Regions from separate parts of the Homo sapiens genome. Here all the other regions are linked to region 2. Evidence: fine-mapped expression QTL. A gene starts in region 2. Each other region holds a variant in brackets. All regions are shown on one strand. Distances are between the middles of the regions.

Region 1 (8,175 bases), 28 kb after region 2:
CGTGAGCCACCGCGCCCGGCCACTTTTCCTTTCGTTAGTTGATTGACACTTTGGTGGTTTCTACTTTCTGGCTTTTGTGCTGTGCTGCTATAAATATTTGTGTACAGGACCTCATGTGGACATAGGTTTTCATTTCTCTTGGGTATATACCTAGGAGTGCAATTACTGGGTCATGCGGTAACTATTGGTTTAATCCTTTAAGGAACTGCCAGACTGTTTTCCAGAGCAGCTGTACCACTTTACAGTCCCACCAGCAGCGTAGAGGGTTCTGATCTCTCCACGTCCTCACCAATGCTTATTATTATCTGACTTTTTAATTCCCGCCATCCTAGTGGTTTTGATGTGCATTTCCCTGCTGACTAATGATGTCAAGGATCTTTTCGGTGTGATTACTGGCCATTTGCATATCTTCCTTGCAGAAATGTCTTTTTAGGTCCTTTGCCCCTGTCTGAATTGGGTTGTCTTTTTATTGTTTAGTTGTCAGAGCTCTTTATTTTAGATATGGGTCTCTGATCAGGTATGATTTGCCCATGTCTGAACTGGGTTGTTTGTCTTTTTATTGTTCAGTTGTCAGAGCTCTTTATTTTAGACGCGGGTCTCTGATCAGGTATGATTTGCATGTTTCCTCCACTCCACAGGTTGTCATGTCACTTCCTTGATGGCATCCTTTGAGGCACAGAAGTTTTAAGTTTTGATGAAGAGTAGTTTATATATAGATTTTTGTTGTTGCTCATACTTTTATTGTTGAGCCTAAGGACCCTCATGATCGAAGGTCATGAAGATTTACTCCTATGTTTTCTTCTAAGAGTTTTGGTTTTAGCTCCTAACATTTAGGTTGTTGGTCAATTTGTGGTAATTTGTGTTATGAGGTATATGGTACGAGGGCTCCGGCCTCATTCTTTTTGCATGTGGATATCCAGCTGTCCCAGCACCATTTGCTGAGACTATTCTTTCCACATTGAATGGTTTCAGCCCCCTTGTAGAAGTCAGTTGGCCATTGACGTGTGGTTTATTTCCAGACTCTCAATTCTTTTTTTTTTTTTTTGAGACGGAGTCTCGCTCTGTCGCCCAGGCTGGAGTGCAGTGGCGCAATCTCAGCTCACTGCAAGCTCCACCTCCCGGGTTCACGCCATTCTCCTGCCTCAGCCTCCGGAGTAGCTGGGACCACAGGCGCCCGCCACCATGCCCAGCTAATTTTTTGTATTTTTAGTAGAGACGGGGTTTCACCATGGTCTCGATCTCCTGACCTGGTGATCCGCCCGCCTCGGCCTCCCAAAGTGCTGGGATTACAGGCCTGAGCCACTGCGCCCGGCCCTGGACTCTCAGTTCTTTTCCACGGATTACAGGCGTGAGCCCCCGCGCCCGGCCCTGGACTCTCAGTTCTTTTCCACTGATCTAAATGCCTATCCTTAACCCATTACCACACCAACAGGTTTCACCATGTTGGCCAGGCTAGTCTTGAACTCCTTCCTGGCCTCAAGTGATTCACCTGCCTAGGCCTCCCAAAGTGCTGGGATTACAGGTGTGAGCAGGTCTGAGTTTTAAAAGGCAAACAATTAATCTTTAAAAGGATATGATTTTATATATATATAGAAAACCCCAAAGAATGTATGACAAGAATAGGAGAGTTTGGCAAGATGGTTGGCTATAAGGTCAGTATGCAAAGGTCAAATAAATATCTATACTCCAGTAATAAATAATCAGGAAAAGTAACTTTTAAAGTATATACTAGTATCAAACTATATAATAGTATCAAACTATAAAATACCTAGGAATAAGTCTGAATTCCATATAAAACTTTACTGAAAGATATTAAATAAGTCATAATGTCATATATGGAGAGACATCCCATGTCCATGGATATAGACTTACTATCCTAAAGATGTCAATTTTCACAAAAATGGTCAATGGATTGAATGCACACCCAGTCATCATTATCTCAAAGGCCTTTTCCATAGAGTGTGACTAGATTTGAAGGTGTATATGTGGAAGAAAAAAGGCCAAGGGTAGCAATGATACTTCTGAAGATGAAGAGTAAAGGAAAGGAACTTTGCCAATCAGTTCCAGGACTTACAAAGTTAGAGTGAACACAGGGCAGTATTGGCACAGATGTATCAAATTGACGCCGCCAGAATTCTACTTTTATATGTGGAATTTTGATACTGACAGTGGGGGAAAAAGGGACTTTTTAGCATGAAGAGATGAAAAATCCAGTTTACCCATATGCATAAAAAATGAAATTGTAGCCCAACTTCTCACACACACACAGTCTAACAGATTAATGACCTACAGGTCAAAAGCAAAACTTTACATCTTTGTGAAAAAAATATACATGAATAACTTTCTAACTTTGGTGTGGGGAAGGATATTTTTTAAAGAAGGCTCCCAACTTGTTAACCACTAATGCTTGATAAATTTGATTATGAACTTTTCTCTATTAGGAAGTACCACCAAGAACAGGGAAGGACAAGCCAGAGGCTGGAGGAAGATACCTGCAGAACACAGACCTGACAAAGGATCAGTATCAAAACATATAAGAATTTTGACAAATGAATAAAAAGAGTACAAATAACCCAACATAAAGTCAAAAGGCGTGATCAGGCATTTCACAGAAGCAAACACCTTTGGTGGATGCCCATGAGGAGAGGCGCAGTCACATCAGTGCCCAGGAGATGCAAACCCAGATCCCAGGGGTGTGCATCCCACCCGTTCTGCCTGTAGGATCTGCAAACCCGGCAAAACCTAGTTCTAGAGAGACTGGATTCACTGCATGTCTTCATCACTGCTGGAGGGAGCGCAGACTGCTATCGCCTCTTAGAAAATGACTTAGTTCTCATGTAATTTGGGCATTCACACATCCTCATCCTAGATCCAGCTTTTCCACTCCCGCACACGTACTGGAAAACCTGTACAGGAACATCCACTGCAGCACTGCTCATACCAAACACAACCTACATGTTCTCTGCACAGAGAGGGGAGAAGAGCCGGTCAGTTCACTCAGTGGACTCTGTGCTCAATAGTAGGTGTGAATAAGCCGCAGCCGCCCAGACCGCATGGGCCAACCTCAGTCCGAGAATGCGGAGTGAAAACACAGGTCTAACGATCACACATGGCAAGATAATTATCTTGCAAAGAAAACTCACTTATTGTTCTGCCATACATATATGTACCATAGAATCACTCCCCGCACCTTCCACTCTGAAAAAACAAAGGAATTCTAGGCACAAAGTTCAGGATCATGGTTAACTGAGGGGAGAGAACAGGGAGTATGATGGCAAGATAGAAGGTATCGTTCACATCCAAGTTTATAGGTTGGGTTCTTGATTTAGTCATTATTCAAAGGCTAATAACTAAATAAAAGGTAGCTAGCGTGAGAGTGCAACATGAACCAAAGATCATGACTGGCTTTGCGCATCGAGGGGCCATTAAAGAGTCTACTTTTCATGTTATCACTTAAAATCATTTTGCACCCACCAGGGCATGAGCATCTCGTGCTGGCAAACACCACATGACCGTGGTGACCTCAGGGCCAGCCCGGGGGTCATCTTGAATCTCTCCTGCTGAAGAGACCCAGGAGGGTAACACACGCCCCTCCAATCTCTGAGTTCTAGGAAATGAACACCTGGTATTTAAAGGGGCTGACATAATGCAAATCATCTGATGAAATGTTTGTTTTAGTTCACTTAAAGATCAACACGAGAGTCTTCACTCTGAATGGGCCACACCTGAATTAAGAGAATCCTTCACTCTCTGCGTCGGATGCACAAACCAGTCCTCCTGGTGCTCACAGGGGCTAGCAGCAAGTCCAGACCTTGTATGGTGAGGGCGGGGGGGGGATGGTGAACTTAGGGTTCAGCGAAACCGCCACTTGCAAACACACCCCACCGCAGGTGCCCTTGATGTGTACACATGTCCTTGAGAAGCTGGGGGCAAGGCCTTGCGGGTGAGACCACGCTCAGCAGCTCACACCTTTACCAAGTACTAGGACTTCTTTGGGGTTGGGTTGAGGGGTGATCCCAATCTGAGTCTATGGTATGACTCAGGGGAGAACAGGTCACCGGGTGCTAGGAGAGCTGTCCATAGAGGACACAGCCCCAAAGGATTAGAACCAGGAGAAAGGTAGAGTCTGACTCAGGGTGAGGAACACACATGTATTGGTGCTGCCCGAAGGGGAACTGCCTCGTGAGCGTCTGGGAACTCTTACTGCAGGTGCTCAGCAGATGCTTGGTGCCCTGCAGGGACGTGCTGGCCTCGATCCTCACGAGGCAGAGCCCCGGACTAGGAGACAGTTCAGGTCCTGCATAACCTGAGTGTCCACAGGGCCCAGCTAGTCCTCAAGCTGGGGCTCGCCCAGTGGCTGCTCCCTCTGCTTCTCCCATCCTGACTCCGCCTGCTCCTCTTTGGAGAAGTGAGGGGTGAGGGGCCCAGAGGCAGGGGCTGGGGTGGGCTCTGCTGCATGTGGAGGCGAAGGAGGAGAGGGGAGGGGAGGCAGCATCAAAGCCAGTCTCTCTAGCTCAGACTCTGGGTGGTTTGGGTGGGTCCTGCCCCCTGGCCTGTTCCCGTCTGTGGGGTCCCACTGCTTGGGTGGTGTAGCTTCACCCCATCTTCCCACACCGGGGTGCCTGGTGCTCAGCCTCCCCTCAGGTAGGCTCTGTGCCTCCTGATTCCTCACCGTGGGTGGTCCCTCCTGCCTGCAGCCTCTAAGGCCCCTGAGAGCAGTCAGTCAGTCCCAAAGTCCCCACCAGCGCTGCTGACTCACTTCCGATGTCCTTGCTGCCGTGTTCAGGGAGCTGGAGGGCCAGGCTGACC[C/T]GCTTGGGGGCTTCCTCCATGTTCTCGAGCTGCGCCGAGGCTGTGGGTTCTAGGAGAAGCCAGGCGGTGACCACACGGCGCAGCTGCTTTGCACCCGGGATGGTCCTGGGGCCACCCTTTTGAGTGCTTCTATATCTCAGGGAGCACGGATGTCCCTGGTGGGGACCAGGCTCCCTGCGTGGCCCCAGCACCTGTCGGCCCCAGAGCTGCCTCCCCTGAAGGGCTGGCCTCACCCTCCTGCTGACCCTCTGGAGGGGCTCGGCCTTCCCCTTGCAGGGCCCCCTCAGAGCTGCTTCAGGGACAGCCACCACTGATCATGCTGAGAGGCCCCATCCTCACGGCTGATGCGGTTGCTTTCTTCTTAGGGTCAAATTCTGCATTCCTCTCCTTCCACCCCTGCTTCTTGGAGGCTGTGGCACCCCCTGCTCTTTCTGAGCTGCCCTCAGTCTGTACTGACCTTCCTCATGCCCTCGCCCCCAACTGCATCACTTCTTATGCAGGGATCTCAACCGCACCCTCGGGCACTTCATATCCGCTTCCATAGCTGCAAGTACAACGGGCCCCCCTCTGTACTCCAGATCTCACCTGCCCACCACTGGGCATCCCGGGCAGCTGCCTGCCCTCTCCTCAGACACCTTGCTGGGGGCTCTCTCCCCTGCTCACCGTGCGGCAGGGACCCCAGGGCTCTGGTCCCTGCTTGCCACTCTCCTTGCTGCATTTCCCTCCCTCCTCTGCCTGAGGAGTTTTTGCTCAGAGCGTGTTCATTAAACTGGTGACTAGGCTCTGTTGGGGAGTTCCATGAGGATGACCACCTGGCCTTCCAGGTGAGAGGCAAGGGCCAGAGAGGTCCCCTCTGGGGCAGGGTCGCGCCTGCCTCACTCCTGCCAACATGTCTCAGGGCTTCTGTGTCAGAATCACAGGCAGATTCCCAGAGCGGCACTCACCCAGTAAACCCGGTGGGAAGGGCCCAAGGCACCTGGGCCCATCAGCCTTGCTGCCACCGGGAAGATCTTGCCAGGACAGTGGCGGAGGATTTGCCGGACCACACTCGGAGTGGCGGGTTAGACCCTCATGGCCTCCTGCCCATGGTTTACTAAAACAAAGCTCAGAGCCCTACTTTGGCAAATAAAGCTGCTGTAATGTCTCAGACCTGCTTCTAAAATGTTTATCTTCTCTTGCGTGCCCTACCAGCAGCCTGCGCCTCCAGCCCACACACTGACGTGAGGCCCTCACGAGCTGCCCCTCCTGCCATGGAGGTGCATGCTGCCGGCGGCCCACGAGCCCCGCGCCTTGTGCACAGTCGGGGTGGGGGTCACTGGCTGGAGACTGCGCTGGCGGTGGGGGTGGGCTCATCATGTAGGGGACAGGACCTGGTGAGAGTGGCAGTGAGGACGAGGGTGGGCCACCAAGGTGGGTGGGGAGGCCCTGGCACTCACGTGATCTCACGGTGGCTGCTTTGCTGGGTGAGCCACCGAACCTGGCGCTCACTCTTCCTCTGCCGTCCACAAGCTCCGAGAACCTGCAGAGAGGGTGGGAGGGTCACCACAGTCCGAGCGCCGCCTCGGGCGATGGGGCCGATGGGTGGGGCATGTACCTGGGGGGCTGGGTGGGGGTCTCGGGGGCGCTGTGGTCATTGAGCAGGCGCAGCTCCGGCAGGCGCGCCGGGGGCGGTCTGTTCTTGAGCACCCGAGGGTGGTGTCCTCCCTGGTGCCAGCGTCTGTCAGCGCCATCCCTGGGGGCTGCAGAGCAGGCAGGAGGAAGGGGCTGGTCTGGGGCTGCCCTCTGCTCCTGTCCCTGCCCCTGTGGCATGGGTGGTGCCCCTCACACTCAGCCGTGCTTGGAGAAGGGAAGGGGGGCATGTGCGTGGGCCGTGGTCATCCAAGGTGCTTGTGGCTTCCCCAGATGCCCTGGGTTCCCTTCCAGCCCACCCGCCGCATCCCTTCTGAGGAGGAGCCATGCGCAGCCATGACACAGGCGTGCACTGGCCTGGGAGTCATGAGGCAGGGCTGAGTCTAGGCCCCTGCCCGTCACTCAAGTTCTCAAGGGGCTGGGCACTCGGGCTCGGACTCAGGTCCCAGGCTGCCCTGGAGACACAGTGCTTCTCCCCAGTGGCCTCCTGATGGGACGCTTCAGCTGGGAGTCCCCACCCCAGCATGTGCCCTGAGAGTGAGGGTGCATCTGTCACCCTAACAGCGTCCTTCAGCCTCCCAGGCTGGGCCCTCCTTCCCCTTCCCTCTCCCTCTCACTCTGACGCCGGCTCACAGAGGTCCCAGCCTGCCCCTTCTGCCTGGCTGGTGGGCTTGGCCCCAAGCTGGTGGGGGTGGCAGGGTTGGGTCTGAGAACTCGGCAAGCTTATGCACTTCGTGTCCCCAGCACAGCCTCACGGGTTGGGGAGGAGCCTGGGGTCAGAGCCCTCTCTTCCCTGGGGAGCCGCGCACTGCTCTGCTCTGTCCCGCCGTGGCCTCTCCTCCCTGCTTGTCTCCGTCTCTTTCTTCTCTCCCTGTTCTGCTCCTGCATTTTCCCACTGCTCCTTCTGTGAACTTGGAAGACCTAAGTGGGGCGTTCGGGACCCTGGTGGAGCCTGGAAGGGCCACCCCTGCACTTGGGAGCAGACCTGAGCCCTTCGGAGCATCTGTCCCCACTCCGAGCGGCTTCTGCCCTGTGCCTCTGCTCCCCAGCATTCCTGCCTGCCTTGCAGGCCCCTGCCTGTGGCCTCCTGGCCCTTTGTCTGTCTGTGTCCAGTGGCTCTTCGTGGGTCAGGCCTGGGCTGCAATGCAGGCCACTTCCGGGGGCTTCCTCCTCGCTGCCACCCTCGGCACCCGTTTTCAGGTGATGCTCGGCCTGTCTGGGATCTACGGGAGGGTCCGGCACAAACTGAGGCTCAATGTGCTTATTATTCCAGTTGTTGGTGCCACCTGCCCATGAGTCCTTCCTTTCCTTGTGGGTTTGAAAAGCCTCCACTTTCATACACAGACTCCTCCCCTGCTAACACGGTCCTGTTTCTAGGCTGTCTGCCTGGCATCCCAGGCCCCTGCAGGGCCAGGTCAGTCCTGAACAGGGTGGAGGGCTGGCAAACACTGGCCCCGCCCACGCGCAGGGCCCACGGCACTCACAGGTGATGATGTAGAGGTGGGCGGGCTCGCTGTGCTGCGGCCCGAGCTCCGTGCTCTGCACTGCTATCACAGAGAGCTGGTACCGCCGTCCCGGCAGCAGGTCGCGCACCGTGTAGGACGCCAGCTTCCCGTTGGGGACATAGCGGCTCTTGGTGCTCTGGCTGGTGGTCACATTGATGACATAAGCCTCCAGCAAGCTGCCTGGAGTCGGGGCATCCCAGACCACGTGGGCAGAGGTGGCAGTGACTCGGGC
Region 2 (8,158 bases):
TTTATATTATTAAAGGGCTTTTAATTTGTGAACTTCTGAAGGCATGAGTGTTTTCTCTTTCTACTTTTGTATATGTGCATGTTTTGTTTCCTCTGACTTGGTATATGCTCATCTGAGTGACGGATATGTGAAATTTGTAGAACTGGTTAGTCAAATGGCCAGACTATTTCATTAATTTATTTCCTCAAATGCTTTTCAAATTAAAGCACCTTTGTTAGTAAACAGTTATCCTGACTTGGATGTTGTGAACTGTTCCCGTGTGCTAAGTGTGAGAAATACCTGGTTTCCTCATTTTTCCATGTGTGCACCCCACTTGCCACAGTTGGAGAGAAGTCTAGCCTTGGCCATTCTGGGGTTCCTTTTACAAGCAGGCCCTGCCAGGGGTGGGCCTAGGGCTCTGAAGCTTGCTCCATCTGGTAAGACGGGGGAGGGTGGCTTCCTCAGGGACCTCCCTTCTGTCTGTAGCAAGACTCTGCTGTCAAACACGTGGCTGGCTCACTGCCAGCAGTCCCCAAATATCCCATGGCCAGCCAGCTCCCACCTCTGTCCACATGAGGGGCTTCCTGGCCCAGCCCCCACCTCTGGTCTGTGTGAGGGGCTCCAGCCCTGTATTCCTCCGAGCTGCTCAGGTTCCAGGGTGTTTGTCAGATACTCAACTGGCTGCTTCCCTCCCTTAGACTCCAGTCCATCCCCCTCAGACAGACTTGGCTAGGTCAAGTACTTAGGATTGTTTTATTTCATGTCTGTGTTAGAGAGGAGGGAATAGCTAGAGGTGAGAGCAGAACCTTTCATTTTTTTCCCCTGCTGAGACAGTAGGAAAAAAACCAAAAACCTAAACCCCTACCCTTTTCCCACATGTCATCACTTGCAGACGGTTTTTCCACATTCTGAGACTCCTGCCCAGAACCCTCTGGAAGCTGCCTGGGAGCCAGGCTGCCTCCTGCGTGGTTCTGAGCTATTTCTAGTGGTTATTTAGGAGGCACTCAACTGTTTTGGGATGATCAGAGTTAATTTTAGTCCCATCTAGTAGGATATGGGCTATTGCCATCCCTTTCTTCAGAAAGTGCTGCCTGAGCCTCGCTGCCACCACAAGTGACTGATGGAGTTGGTGGGGGAGGACCCTCCTCTATCAGGGACATTCAAGGTACAAGGGTTTTACAGGTGTGTATTAAAGTCAGTGATGTTCACTCTTCAGAATTCAAAGAGTTTTCTGATGTTTTAAGAACCCCTACCTTGTAGTGTTTATGGTGCTTATAACACAGAGGATGTTATAGAATGGTGTTTGTTTGTTTGTTTATTTATTTAGAGACAGAGTCTTATACTGTCGCCTGGGCTGGAGTGCAATGGTGCGATCTCAGCTCACTGCAACCTCCGCCTCCCAGGTTCAAGCAATTCTGCCTCAGCCTCCCAAGTAGCTGGGATTACAGGTGCCCACCACCACGCCTGGCTAAATTTTTGTATTTTTAGTAGAGACGAGGTTTCACTATGTTGGCCAGGCTGGTCTCAAACTCCTGACCTCATGATCCGCCCGCCTCGGCCTCCCAAAATGTTGGGATTACAGGCATGAGCCACTGCGTTCGGCCACAATGGTGTTTGCAGACAGGTGTTTAATGGGTTGAGAATGCATAGTCTGAGCTTTCTAAGAACTGTTACTTCTTTATAAGAAAAAATAATTAAAGCTCATCTGACTTCATGGCAGTGGAAGGTCTGGTATTTTGCAAACGTTCTTTGCAGAAAGAACCCAGAGAGGAAAGTTCTGAGGCTGAGGCTGACAATTTTTCCACTCCATTTTTTTTTTTTTTTTTAAGATGGAATCTTGCTCTGTCACCCAGGCTGGAGTGCAATGGTGCAATCTCGGCTCACTGCAACCTCCGTTCCCTGGGTTCAAGCAATTCTCCTGCCTCAGCCTCCCGAGTAGCTGGGATTACAAGTGTGCGTTATCACGTTACCTGGCTAATTTTTGTATTTTTAGTAGAGGCAGGGTTTCACTATATTGGCCAGGCTGGTCTCGAACTCCTGACCTCAGGTGATCCACCCATCTCAGCCTCTCAAAGTGCTGGGATTACAAGCATGAGCCACCGTGCCCAACCCACTGCATATTTTTAAAGTATGGTTCGAGAGAGCAAAGTTTTCACACAAGACTGAAGGTGATGTCAAATTTTTTTTTTTTTTTTTTGAGAAGTACTTTCGCTTTTGTTGCCCAGGCTGCAGTACAATGGCGTGATCTTGGCTCACTGCAACCTCCGCCTCCCAGGTTCAAGTGATTCTCCTGCCTCAGCCTCCTGAGTAGCTGACACTACAGGTGCCCACCACCATGCCTGGCTAATTTTTGTATTTTTAGTAGAGATGGGGTTTCACCATGTTTTCCAGGCTGGTCTCAAACCCCTGACCTCAGGTGATCTGCCCACCTCGGCCTCCCAAAGTGCTGGGATTACAGGCGTGAGCCACCACACCCGGGCTCATGTCAATTTTTCATAGTAATCCCCATGTCCCAGCTGTCATTTTATTTCTAGAGCTAGACAAACTGTTCAGGTTCCTTGATTCTTTCCAGGGAGTTGGGGTGGCTCATGGGATTTTCTTAGGCTTTTGGTGTAGCATTAACACAATTTATTGTGAGATGTTGACAGTTGAGTATTTTGAGAAGAAAATTACATTATAAAAAACAACAAAGGCAACCAATTTTTTTTTTCCTTTTGTTTTTTGAGACAAGGTCTTGCTCTGTTACGCAGGCTGGAGTGCAGTGGTGCAATCATGGCTCACTGCAGCCTCAACCTCCTGGACTCAAGTGATCCTCCCACTTCAGGCTCCTGAGTAGCTGGGACTACAGGTGCACGCCACTACTCCCGGCTAATTTTTTATTTTTTGTAGAGACAGGATTTTCCTATGTTGCTCAGGTTGGTCTTGAACTCCTGAGCCCAGGCAATCCCCCCCACCTCAGCCTCTCACAGTGCTGGGATTACAGGCGTGGGCCACTGCACTCTGCCAAAGCAACCAATTCTTTAGTTTCTACACGGATTAGAACCTTCCTTTTCTTTGACATAATCCTTTTGTCAAAAGACAGTTTTACATAAATTGTTTGGCACCCCACTCCATGCCTGGCGCAAAGCAGATATGTAAATGTGTGCCCATGCAAGAATCAAATCCTTTATGTCAGTCCAGAATGAAGTAGATAAAACAAGAAATGCTTATAAATTAAGGCTTTGGTGGCAGGATTTAGGCAGCTGAGAAAGCACACCTTTTTATTCTTCACAAGCATCACCTTGTGAAAGATGCCTACGCTCTTAGGTCGAGAGAGGAAATTTAAGAATGAATACACATTGGGCTAAAACTTTACTATATTTCATCCTAAGAGGGAACCAGACCTCGAAGTTGGGAAGGCTCTTGCTTATAAAGGGAAATGTGCCGTAATTCCTGTCATTTTACTTGGGTCTTTTAAAAACGGCAAATTCTCATCTTCCACTGGCTGAGAGTAAAAAGAAAGAAAAGCGGTAAAGACTTCTTTTTGTGCGTAGGTGGCCCCGGTGTTCACGCTGAATACAGATTTTTACACAATAAAATCTTAAATATCTCTACATGGAACGGAATCCATTTTTCCTGCCTCGGGAAGGATTTCTGCGCTCTCGGGTGAAGTTCCCGAAGCAAGGAACCAGTTCCCCTCTACCTGTACTCTTGAGAGGAATTCTCAGGTCATCTGAAACACAAGTATGGGCCAGGACGACCCATTCGTTCACGCGGCCCAGAGCTCTGCGAAACGGGACACGGCAGTGCAACGGGAACAACCGGACACCGAGGCCCCCGAAGGCTGAGGCCGCGGCAGAGGCGGCGGCACGGTGACGGGCGCGACTCCGGCCTTCCGGCTTTCTAAGGGGCGGCCCCGGGACACCTGAGCCCCGCGGGGCCGTGAACGCTCAGCACAGCTCCGGGCCGGAATCACGATCCACCACACCGCGCTGGCGCTGGGAACGGCGTCGGTGACGGACCGGGGGCCGGAAGTGAAGGACGGGGGAGGACCGCTGCTTCCGGCGCCGTAACTGCTGCCATCTTCTCCGCGCTATGGCTGCGTTCGGCCGTCAGGTAAGCTCGAGCTGGGCGCGCGGGCTTCTCCGGGTCGCAGGCGGGCGGGCAGCGACGCAGAGGAACCGCGGCCGCCGAGTGTTTCACGGCCAGGTCGTGGAGCCCTCCCGGAGGTCCGTGCACGCTGACCTGGTTTTGGCATCCTGGACCCGTGGCTCTGCTCAATTATTGTGGGATATAGAGTTGACATTTTTTTTTTTTGAGACAAAGTCTCGCTCTGTCTCCAGGCTGGAGTGCAATGGCGCGATCTCGGCTCACTGCAACCTCCGCCTCCCGGGTTCAAGCAATTCTACTGCTTCAGCCTCCCAAGTAGCTGGGATTACAGGCGCCCGCCACCATGCCTGGCTAATTTTTGTATTTTTAGTAGAGACGGGGTTTCACCGTGTTGGCCAGTCTGGTCTGTAACTTCTGGCCTCAGGTGATCCACCCGCCTCGAACTCCCAAAGTGCTGGGATTACAGGCGTGAGCCACCGCGCCCGGCCTGAGTTGACTGTTGAACAAGAGTTTGAACTTCACAAGGAAGATAACATGTACTTTTCATTAAGAGGAAGCGGAATCAGCATAGAGGTCTTTAGGCTTGAGCCCAGTTCCACGGGCCGCGCCCGCTGACCCCAGCGACTGCCAGGTGTTCCTGGCGGAGGGAGCATCTGGACAGGGGAGGCTGGAGAGCAGCCAGAGCTTGGGCTTGGCAGGGTGGCCCCAGGGCGACAATCGATGACGCTGGAGAAGGGGTTGGGACCGATGTGAAGGTTTTAGAGCAGGGGTTCCCCAACCCCCGGTACCGTCCCTTGCCTATTAGGAACCAGGCTGCACAGCAGGAGGTGAGCGGCAAGTGAGCCAGCCAGACTGTATTTACAGCCGCTCCCTTCGCTGGCATTACCGCCTGAGCTCCGCCTCCTGTCAGACCAGCCGCCTTAGATTCTCACTGGAGCGCGAACCCTATTGTGAACTGCGCCTTTGAGGGGTCCAGGTTGCGCTCCTTATGAGAATCTGATGCCCGATGATCTGTCACTGTTTCCCATCAACCCCAGATGGCACCTCCTGGTTGTAGGAAAACAAGCTCAGGGCTCCCAGTGATTCTACATTATGGTGAGTTGTATAATTATTTCATCTTATATTACAACGTGAAAATAACAGAAATAAAGTGCACAACAAATGTAATATGCTTGAATCATCCTGAAACCCCTCACCAGTCTGTGGAAAAATTGTCTTCCATGAAGCCAGTCCCTGGTGCCAAAAACGTTGAAGACTGCTGGCTTAGAGTGCCTGGATGATTTGTGCATAGTTTGTTAAGCACCAGCCTGAACCACTGAAGACTTTTGAGGTCAACTGGAATTGTGTATGCAAGTTGACTAATTACTGTGACCCTTGAACAACACAGGGGTTAGGGGCACCAGACCGCCCCCACACCAGTTGAAAATCAGTGTATAACGTTTGACTCCTCCAAAACTCAACTACTAATAGCCTACTCATGACTGGAAGCCTTACCGACAACATAAACAGTTAACACATATCTTGTATATATATATATTGCATTCTGTATTCTTAAAGTAAGCTAGAGAAAAGAAAACGTTATTCAGAAAATCATAAGGGCAAAACCCCGTCTCTACAAAAAATACAAAAATTAGCAGGGTGTAGTGTGCACCTGTAGTCCCAGCTACTCAGAAGGCTGAGGTGGGAGGATTACCTCAGCCTGGGGAAGTCAAGGCTGCAGTGAGCCATGATTGCACCACTGCACTCCAGCCTGGGCAACAGAGTGAGACCCCCGTCTCAAAAAACAAAAAGAAAATCCTAAGAGAAAATGTATTTACTATTCATTAAGAGGAAGTAGATCCTCATAAGGTCTTTAGGCTGAAGAGGAGGTGAAGGAGAGTTTGGTCTTGGTGTCTCAAGGGTGGCAGAGGCGGAAGAAAATCCACATATAAGTGGATCCAAGCAGTTCAAACCCTTGTTGTTCAAGGGCCAACTCTGTATCCCACAAGATTCTTCTCGTGGAATGAATTTAAGAACATGAATCTGGAAAGTAGTCTGAGGTCCAGACTTTTCTGGCACACATGACCAGGTGGCCTAGAAATAGTTTTTCCCTCTTCCTCCATGTCCCTGCTCCCATCCTTAAAGCTGCAAAAGCTAACAATATTGTACCTGCTTGACTCCCATCTCTGTGGCCTTGAAATACCCTGTTCTTTGTGAGCTTCCTTCTCTGTAGGCTTAAGTTCAGATAGGATTTTGCAGATTGCTTATAAAAATTGTATGTTTGTGTGGAACCAAGGCAGTAAGTACTCTGGCTCAGAAGTCTTATGGTGTCCATTACACTGGAATAGTGAGGAATTAATTGTCTTTTGGTCCTGTGTCTTACAGGTCCTTGATTGGCACCGCCTGATCCCCCTCACCTGGGCCTGTATGGCTAGGCAGACTCCTCATCTTGGAGAACAGAGAAGGACGACAGCTTCTTTGTTGCGCAAACTGACTACAGCCTCCAATGGAGGGGTCATTGAGGAGTTATCTTGTGTTAGATCCAATAACTATGTGCAGGAACCAGAGTGCAGGAGGAATCTTGTTCAGTGCCTCCTTGAGAAGCAGGGGACTCCTGTGGTACAAGGGTCCTTGGAGCTAGAGAGGGTCATGAGTTCCCTCCTGGACATGGGTTTCAGCAATGCCCATATTAATGAATTGCTCAGTGTACGGCGAGGTGCCAGTCTTCAACAGTTGCTGGACATCATTTCAGAATTTATTCTCTTGGGTCTGAATCCAGAGCCTGTGTGTGTGGTCTTGAAGAAAAGTCCCCAGTTATTGAAACTGCCTATTATGCAAATGAGGAAGCGCTCCAGTTACCTGCAAAAGCTTGGGCTTGGAGAAGGTACAAGAAGTTGCAGATTTTGGCTGGGTGCGGTGGCTCATGCCTGTAATCCCAGATCTTTGGGAGGCCGAGGCAGGCAGATCACTTGAGGTCAGGGGTTCAAGATCAGCCTGGCCAACATGGTGAAACCCTGACTCAACTAAAAATAGAAAAATTAGCTGGGCTTGGTGGCACGCACCTGTAATTCCAGCTACTTGGGAGGCTGAGGCATGAAAATCGCTTGAACCCAGGAGGCGGAGGTTGCAGTGAGCTGAGATGGCGCCACTGCACTCCAGCCTGGGTGACAGCAAGGCTGTCTCAAAAAAAAAAAAAAAGATTTTATATAGTGTGACAGGAGCCAGAGGTGGGGAAAGAGCAGCCTAAGGTGAGATGGATTAGGGGAGGTTTCTGAGTATGTCAGTGTTCCTGGAGAGGACTGTATAATTTGGCTTGGAGGTGAGGAATAGGAGTGGCTTTCTGTGCAGAATACATTTTGAGAGGGAAGGAGGAGGAGTTAAGACTAGAAGAAAAAATTGAGTGCCAGGGCAGAGACTCTTGTCTGCCTTGTTCACCGTGGGATCTTCAGCACCTAGTGCAGTGGTGGGCATATGGTATGTGTTCAGTGGGTTGATGCTGATAATGTGATGTTGATAAATATGTGTACATATAGCATTTGATGTTTAAATCAACATGAAATGGTCTTAGTGCTCTGTCTCTGTGATGTGATGTCAAACCAACATCTCTTGTAAAGACTTAGATTCTAGTCGAGTGTTTAGATTTACTCTGGAACATGAGAGATCTGGCCAGGTTCCTGGGATACTCGTGGAGTGGCCTTCCCTTCTATTTATCCCCCACTCCTGCCCCCAACAATATTCACATCTCAAGGATGCTCAAAGTTCCTTGAATCTCTTTAAGGGCCTTCTGGAGGAGTTGGGGGTCTCCAAGGACCCTTACCCACTTTGACCAGAGGAGTTCCACTATTATTTCTTTGCATTATTGACTCTTCCTGGTAAGATGTTTTTTGAGGCAGTGGTAGAAGGTTTAGGATCCACCATTTCACAGCATCTCTACAGGCCTCCTTCTCTAGAAGATAAGAAAAAGGTAGCCTTGTATATTTTTCTTAACAGATTCTTACAGTGTAATCTAAAAGTCTAAATATATTATGTGTGGTGGTGATTAATTAGCAAACTCAGCACAGCCTTAAGAAATGAAGATAAACCTAAACTGAAATTCCTCACATATTAAGAT
Region 3 (8,175 bases), 110 kb before region 2:
TCCTAGGACCACCTTGCCACACACGGGTGAGGAAAAGGCCATATCATCCAGATATTTAAAAGAAGGAGACAAAGTGTGACATTTCCGAAGTCACCCAAAAACATGTTGATTAACAGGAGTTGGGAAAATTGATAATACCCTATATCCCAACACTAATAATGAATGTGGTGCACACGGGTGAGTGGTCAGGGGATGGGTCAGAGAAACAGAATAGAGGCTCGGTGCCAAGGCTGCGCAGCGGACTGGGCTCCGGTGCAGGTGCCGGAGGCAGGAGCATCAAAGGCTGAAGGTTACAGGAGGGAAAGAGGGAGGCTCAACACCCCACAGCAACCCCACAGTTGCAGAAACAAATGGGTGGCTCCCCTCAGAGCCCTACCCTTGGCCATCCAGAACCAGGAACCTCTCCCTGAGACACCTGCCACCTGCAAAGGTCTTTCCCTGACACCCACCTTCCCCTGGCCACCCACCAGGAGGCACTTCCTCCTCAGCACTTAAGCCCTCTCCCATTCTCTGTAGCTGTGCAGGCAGCCAGTTCTGTCCCCTCTCCTAGAACCTGGGCTCCAGGGTGGGGCTGCCAGCTTTTGTTCAAGACTATTCACCCCCAGGGCTAGAGCAGGGCTAGTGAGAGGCAGCAGCTTATGGAATGAATAGGTTGGTCGTAAGTGTTTGTCCTCAGGAAATGAGACAGAGAAAAAGACCGATGGGAGAGGAAGGGGGAGGGAAGAACTGAGAGGTGGCTGCCCAGCCCAGCAGCCGATACCCCACACCACCCAACAGAGGCTCAGCGGCCCTATCCTAGAGGGACATCTCCCACCTGGGGGACCTTGCAGCCTGGAGGGGGGCCCTGTGGAGGGGTGAGAACTCTTTGGGTGCTGGAGTGCCCCCAGGGTCTTTTATCTCCAGGAAGGCCCTGCTCACTGCTCTTTTAAGGGGGCCTCTGGGGAGGCTCAGACAACTCCAATCTGTACCACATTTAGAAATAGGGAGCACTGGCTTCCTAACCCAGGGATTGTTTGTGTCCCACCTGGGGTGCCAAAAACAAAAAATAAGAGAAAGAAAACCAGGTGCTGTGGCTCATGCCTGTAATCCCAGCACTTTGAGAGGCCTAGGCAGGAGGATCCCTTGAGGCCAGGAGCTCGAGACCAGCCTGAGCCACACAGTGAGACCCCTGTCTCTATCAAAAAAAAAAAAAATTTCAGCTGGGCACAGTGGTCCAGGTACTGAGGAGGCTGAGGCAGGAGGATCCCTTGAGCCTGGGAGGTCAAGGCTACAGTGAGCCATGATCGTGCCAGTGCACTCCAGCTTGGGCAACAGAGTGAGATCCTGTCTCAAAAGAAAAAAGAAGAAAGAAATAGAAATGAGGGCCATGTGTGTCAGTGAGTGAGAAAGTCACGTTCTGGCTGGCGGCCGGCAGGGTGGGCCCCTGGTCAGTGCCTGGCCGGCCTCAGCCCACTCACCCCATCGTGTCAGGACGTGGGCCAGGGATACATAGATCTTGGAGAGGATGAGGATGAAGACGAGGTTCACTACAGACCCCGTGAGGCTGGCGATGCGAGAGGCCTAACGGGAGACAGGCCGTCAGAGCCGGATGAGGGGCCGCTCAGGGCCCCCCGAGGCAGGCAGCAGAGGCTCACCCAGGCTGCGAGAAGGGTGTTGCCCGACCTGGACACCACGATGGCCATGATGGCACGGTACAGGATGATAGACACGAGGCACATGACCACCACGGCCACCTGCGGGGGCAGGGAGGCCCGTGAGACCCTTCACGGTGTCTTGGGCACCCCAGCACCCTCAGGCCATGGCCCCCGACAGCTCTTCTAGTCCACTGCTGGCCCCAGCACTGCCACCTCTAGGAAGGCCCCTGCCTCCAGCCCCGGCTGTGCTCCCAGGCTATGTCCTTCCTGATGAGTTGCTCAGGCAGAGGTGGGGTGGGGTTAGAGTTAGAGGCTGGGCCACATCTGGGTGTCAAGGCAGCCACTGTGAGTGTTGGAGAGCCATCCCATCCCAGGAATTGGGGATTCCTGACATCTTGGCAGGGGAGTGAGAGGTCCTATTAGGAAGCCCCTTTGGCTGGAAGGCAAGACAGGGTGCAGTGAATGGCCCTGCTGGGGTGCCCGCCTCTCTTTTCCTTGAAACCAACCCCCTTGCTTGAAAAATGCCCCATGCCCGCACCCACGGGGAGACCCTCCCAGGCCCTCCGTATGACTCACACCTGCTCTCAGCCGGGACCCCACGGCCGAGCCCGGGCACATGGGGGCCTCTCTGCGGGGAGTGAGGGTTCTGTGCCCAGAGGAGGCATCTGGCCACGGCACCAAGGTGAGATGGGGGACAAAACCACCCCACATGGTGCAGGAGGATGGAGGCGTGAGCGGAGGGCAGGGGGACCGCATACCATCACCACGATCACCACAGAGCCGGCCAGCATGCGGCGCGCGCGGCTCCTCTCAGGGAAGTAGGGCTCGTCCTCACCCGTGATGGGGTTCGGGGCTGTCATGGGGGCTGAGGCGGCAAACTGGGGCCGAGGCCTCTCCTGGAAGGGAGCCGGTGCTCAGTGGCGGCCCTCGCCGGGTGTGACCGTGGTCCAGCGGGGGTGGCTCACCTCAGTGTCCTCGTAGTCAGAGCAGTCCCAGCGGTAGGCCAGCGTGGCGCTCTTCCGCTTCCAGTACTCCAGCAGCAGCACGGCCCACAGTGCCATGAACAAGCTGAAGAACACGGTGCCGCCGTGGTCGAACAGCCGGCCGGCCTGTGGCAGGGAGCGGGGGCGTCCAGACTTGCTTGGGACTGGAGGCCCCTTGTTCCTTCCAGTGTTCCTTCCTCCTGGAATGGGAGTGTGCATCCCACACACATCCCCCGACTGTGTATTTTTTGTTTGTTTGCTTGAGACGGAGTCTGGCTCTGTCACCCAGGCTGGAGTGCAGTGGCGCGATCTCGGCTCACTGCACGCTTCGCCTCCCGGGTTCACGCCATTCTCCTGCCTCAGCCTCCCAAGTAGCTGGGACTACAGGCGCCCGCCACCACGCCCGGCTAAATTTTTGTATTTTTAGTAGAGACGAGGTTTCACCGTGTTAGCCAGGATGGTCTCGATCTTCTGACCTTGTGATCCACCCGCCTTGGCCTCCCAAAGTGCTGGGATTACAGGCGTGAGCCACCGTGCCCAGCCCCCTGACTGTGTTTTGGAAGCACAGACCCACAGAGGGAGAGGAATTTTGCCTCAGGACGGCTCACACCCAGGTCTCACCCACACCTGACTTTGAGGATGCGATTTGGGACTTTCTGAGCTGATATTTTCATGAGGTTTTGGACCTAGAGTTAATGCTGTAAGAGGTTGAGACTTTGGAGGATGCTGGGATGAGGTGAGTGTATTTTGCACGTGGGATGGACATGAAGTTTTGGAACCAGAGGATGACCTGTAGTGAGTTGAATTCTGGCCCCCAAAAGATATGTTCGTTGGGAACCTCAGAATGTAATCTTATTTGAATAAGGGCCTTTGTAGATGTAAGGTAAGGATCTCCAGATGAGAGTACTCTGGACAAACCCTTACAAGAGGGGAGAAGAGGAACCAGCA[C/G]GCAGACACAGAAGGGAAGGCCAGGTGGAGATGGAAGCAGAGATTGGAATGAGGCGGCCACAAGCCAGGGAGGACCAAGGACTGCCAGCAGCACCAGAAACCAGGAGAGAGGCCTGGGGCTGAGTCCCCAGAAGTGGCCAAGCCTGCCAACAGCTTGATTCTGGACTCTGGCCCCGGGCCTGTGAGAATAAGCTTCTGCTGTTTTAAGTCCCCATTTGTGGTCCTAGGAAACATCCAAGTGGATTCCCAGAAGTGAGGTCAAACGGCGTCTGGCCCACCAGTAGTGCCAAGGGCTCTGGGTCCAGTGCATGTGGGGTACAAGCGAGGCCCTGAGGCCCCTGGGAAGGTGGACAGACCCAGGAAGCATGCCAGGCGGGAGGGGGGACAGTGGGGCTCAGAGACTGCAGGAGCCTCCCGCCCAGGTCTTGTAAGTTGGGAATTCTGCTCAAAACCTTTGGTTTTGCCTGTGCCCTGGGGTCTCCAGGGTTTGTCCGCCTTGGAGCCAAGGGCCAGGTGCCCCCAGAGTGCCAGAGCTAGAGTCCTGGTGTGGGGTGTCCTCAAGTGGGAAGCACTAACATGGGCCACTCTGCCAAGTGCTGGGAGGTGTGTGCCGGGTGTAACCCCAGTTCCAGGCAAGAGAACAAAGGTTAAGGAGCTCATGGAGCGTTCTGCCTTTAGCTGGTGACAAGCAGGACAGGGGCTGGTGCAGGCAGAGTCAGGACCAGGACAAGGGGAGCTGCCCTCCTCATCCCCGACTCTCAAATCCCTTACCCCACCCACCTCTTCTCGTACCTGGGCCAGGGCACAGGCGCTGGAGAGCAGCCAGAAAGGGCAGTCGAGGCAAAGTGGGCACATCTCGAAGCTGTCCTTGCTGCCACACAGTTCCTGCCTGCAAGGCATGGAGCGGAGGGGTGGGAGCTAATGGGGGAGGGGGGCTGCTTGCTCCTCCCAGCCAGGCGCCTCCCTTGTCCTCTCTCTCCCTTGTCCTCTCTGTCCACCACTGCCTTTGCCAGGCCCAGCATTTCTTAAAAAAAATAGTTGTTTTAAAATATATGCCATGACAATGTCTGAGTTAAGTTTCTGAATTTCAGTTCCATGATAAACTAAAACACAAGCCCATTTATTAATATTATAAGAAAGCTTACATTATTATAATAAACAAGAGTGCCAATAAAATTAGCATGGGAGCACTCCTGCCCATCTGTCAGCCTTGGAACACTCCTGTCCACCTGTGTCAGCCTGGGAGCACTCCTGTCCACCTGTCAGACTGGGAGCACTCCTGACCACCTGTGTCAGCCTGGGAGCACTCCTGTCCACCTGTCAGCCTGGGAGCACTCCTGTCCACCTGTCAGACTGGGAGCACTCCTGTCTACCTGTGTCAGCCTGGGAGCACTCCTGTCCACCTGTCAGCCTGGGAGCACTCCTGTCCACCTGTGTCAGCCTGGGAGCACTCCTGCCCACCTGTGTCAGGCTGGGAGCATTCCTGCCCACCTGTCAGCCTGGGAGCACTCCTGTCCACCTGTCAGACTGGGAGCACTCCTGTCCACTTGTGTCAACCTGGGAGCACTCCTGTCCACCTGTCAGCCTTGGAGCACTCCTGTCCACCTGTGTCAGGCTGGGAGCACTCCTGCCCACCTGTGTCAGGCTGGGAGCACTCCTGTCCACCTGTGTCAGCCTGGGAGCACTCCTGTCCACCTGTCAGGCTGGGAGCACTCCTGTCCACCTATGTCAGCCTGGGAGCACTCCTGTCCACCTGTGTCAGCCTGGTAGCACTCCTGCCCACCTGTGTCTGGCTGGGAGCACTCCTGCCCACCTGTCAGCCTGGGAGCACTCCTGTCCACCTGTCAGCCTGGGAGCACTCCTGTCCACCTGTCAGACTGGGAGCACTCCTGTCCACCTGTCAGCCTGGGAGCACTCCTGTCCACTTGTCAGACTGGGAACACTCCTGTCCACCTGTGTCAGCCTTGGAGCACTCCTGTCCACCTGTGTCAGGCTGGGAGCACTCCTGCCCACCTGTGTCAGGCTGGGAGCACTCCTGTCCACCTGTGTCAGCCTGGGAGCACTCCTGTCCACCTGTCAGACTGGGAGCACTCCTGACCACCTGTGTCAGCCTGGGAGCACTCCTGTCCACCTGTCAGCCTGGGAGCACTCCTGTCCACCTGTCAGACTGGGAGCACTCCTGTCTACCTGTGTCAGCCTGGGAGCACTCCTGTCCACCTGTCAGCCTGGGAGCACTCCTGTCCACCTGTGTCAGCCTGGGAGCACTCCTGCCCACCTGTGTCAGGCTGGGAGCATTCCTGCCCAGCTGTCAGCCTGGGAGCACTCCTGTCCACCTGTCAGACTGGGAGCACTCCTGTCCACTTGTGTCAACCTGGGAGCACTCCTGTCCACCTGTCAGCCTTGGAGCACTCCTGTCCACCTGTGTCAGGCTGGGAGCACTCCTGCCCACCTGTGTCAGGCTGGGAGCACTCCTGTCCACCTGTGTCAGCCTGGGAGCACTCCTGTCCACCTGTCAGGCTGGGAGCACTCCTGTCCACCTATGTCAGCCTGGGAGCACTCCTGTCCACCTGTGTCAGCCTGGTAGCACTCCTGCCCACCTGTGTCAGGCTGGGAGCACTCCTGCCCACCTGTCAGCCTGGGAGCACTCCTGTCCACCTGTCAGACTGGGAGCACTCCTGTCCACCTGTCAGACTGGGAGCACTCCTGTCCACCTGTCAGCCTGGGAGCACTCCTGTCCACTTGTCAGACTGGGAACACTCCTGTCCACCTGTGTCAGCCTTGGAGCACTCCTGTCCACCTGTGTCAGGCTGGGAGCACTCCTGCCCACCTGTGTCAGGCTGGGAGCACTCCTGTCCACCTGTGTCAGCCTGGGAGCACTCCTGTCCACCTGTCAGACTGGGAGCACTCCTGTCCACCTGTGTCAGCCTTGGAGCACTCCTGTCCACCTGTCAGACTGGGAGCACTCCTGTCCACCTGTGTCAGCCTTGGAGCACTCTTATCCACCTGTGTCAGCCTGAGAGCACACCTGTCTACCTGTTTCAGCCTGAGAGCAGTCCTAGCTACCTGTCAGCCTGGGAGCACTCCTGTCCACCTATCAGCCTGGGAGCACTCCTGACCACCTGTCAGCCTGGGAGCACTCCTATCCACCGGTGCCAGCCTGGGAGCACTCCTGACTACCTGTCAGCCTGGGAGCGCCCCGTCTGCCTGTCAGTCTGGGAGTGCTCCTGACCACCTGTCAGTTTGGGAGCACTCCTGTCCACCTGTCAGCCTGGGAGCACTCCTGTCCACCTGTCAGCCTGGGAGCACTCCTGTCCACCTGCCAGCCTTTCAGCCATGTCCACAAGGCCCTCTGTGACACTCCTGAAGACAGGCATGTGCTCACCTCACACCTCAATCACCTCAAGCACCAGCTGTCTGCACAGGACCTAGCACCTAGGGGTCCCCCCGCCCCACACCCATCTGGAGGCCCAGCACCAGGCCCCAGAGCTGCGGAGAGGGAACACTCACGTGGGTATGTCTGAGAACACCAGGAAGCAGCCCACCAGGAACACCAGTGTGCCCACCACTGCCGCTGGCAGGAGCCAGCCTGTGTAAAACCCTGTAGAGAGGATGGCAGGGGTCCACCATCAGGAACCCAGGCTTGGGGGCCCCAGGTAGGGGTCTGCACAGCCATGCTTGTCCCCTAGGGACCACCCTCAGCCCAGCTTGGGGGCTGGGGCCCTATGTGAGGAGGCCAAGAGGTACACAGCTCTCCCTGGCAGCTCTGGCACGGCCCACCCTCCTGGGCCTCTGCCCTAGACTCTGGACACCCCTACCACATTGACCCCAACACCAGTGCTGCTGGGGCTCCAGCCCACCAGGCTCTCCACCTCTGGATGCCTTCTCCTCAGCCAGCTCACTCCAACCAACCTGCCCGGGACGGACAGAGAAGTCCCTCTACATCCTGCCCACCACAGAGCTGTGGGCCCACCCGTGTTCCAGCCCCAGGGAAACCACGAGTCATTCCGGGTACCTCCCTCCCCACCACCCAACCCCCACCCTGGCCCCTGCCTCATCTGACCACAGCCGCAATCCCTCAGTTACCCCAGGCCCTCAGCATGTACCCCCACTGCCTCCCATAGGGCTAGTCCAGTCCCAGGCCTGGTGTCCTGTCTCCTGCCTGACTCTCTGCTGGCCAAAGTGACTGCTGTGAAACGCAAGTCTGCCTGGAGCCCAGATCCAGCCCTGGCCCTGCTTGCCCCCAGAAGCCCCCAGCCTGGCCGTGCTGTCCCAGGGTTGCTGCTCCAGGTCCTGAGATGGCCGGGTGAGTCCTGGCACACAGGAGCTGTCCCTCTGCCCCGATGCTGTGCCCCGGCTGCCCTTCCATGCCTGCCGGCCCCGCCCGCTGCCCTGGCTGGCTCTATTGTCTGGGTCCACGGTGGGGCTGTGTGTGCGGATGAGAAAGGGCTTTGGAAGTTCTGGGGCACAGAATGAAGGGGTTGGGTCTGACCCAGGATGGGGAAGGGAGGGTGCCAAGAGCTGAGTGGGGTGAGGGCAGCCAGGACCCAGGAGGAACAGCTCTGGGGTTGCCTGGGGCAGATGGCCTGCTTGGAGGAGATGAGAGGCTTGGC

What was found. PIP is the estimated chance that this variant, and not a neighbour inherited with it, causes the effect.
Region 1: its variant is fine-mapped to the expression of MTERF4 in tibial nerve (GTEx, PIP above 0.99). The same link has a PIP of 0.9 or more in fibroblasts, left ventricle, prefrontal cortex, subcutaneous fat, sun-exposed skin and tibial artery.
Region 3: its variant is fine-mapped to the expression of MTERF4 in ovary (GTEx, PIP above 0.99).

What each region holds. Positions count from the first base shown.
Region 1 is chr2:241,069,949-241,078,123 of GRCh38, reverse strand. SNED1 (sushi, nidogen and EGF like domains 1) reads right to left here. Exons shown (of 32, transcript NM_001080437.3): 24 at 7,923-8,175; 25 at 6,404-6,548; 26 at 6,246-6,328; 27 at 4,760-4,858. It also overlaps a transcript of MTERF4 not described here. Among named protein-coding and RNA genes, the nearest start is that of SNED1-AS1, 9.9 kb to the right of the region's middle. RefSeq lists an enhancer at 4,166-4,682. The variant C/T (reference allele first, on the strand shown) is at 4,810.
Region 2 is chr2:241,098,169-241,106,326 of GRCh38, reverse strand. It overlaps MTERF4 (mitochondrial transcription termination factor 4), which reads left to right and starts at 4,040. Exons shown (of 4, transcript NM_182501.4): 1 at 4,040-4,074; 2 at 6,433-6,931. The coding sequence starts at 4,054. It overlaps PASK (PAS domain containing serine/threonine kinase), which reads left to right. Exons shown (of 18, transcript NM_015148.4): 18 at 1-228. RefSeq lists enhancers at 3,714-4,253, 4,254-4,793.
Region 3 is chr2:241,203,853-241,212,027 of GRCh38, reverse strand. It overlaps ANO7 (anoctamin 7), which reads right to left. Exons shown (of 25, transcript NM_001370694.2): 10 at 7,073-7,163; 11 at 4,358-4,454; 12 at 2,600-2,743; 13 at 2,393-2,530; 14 at 1,635-1,733; 15 at 1,458-1,560. Among named protein-coding and RNA genes, the nearest start is that of ANO7, 19 kb to the right of the region's middle. The variant C/G (reference allele first, on the strand shown) is at 3,566.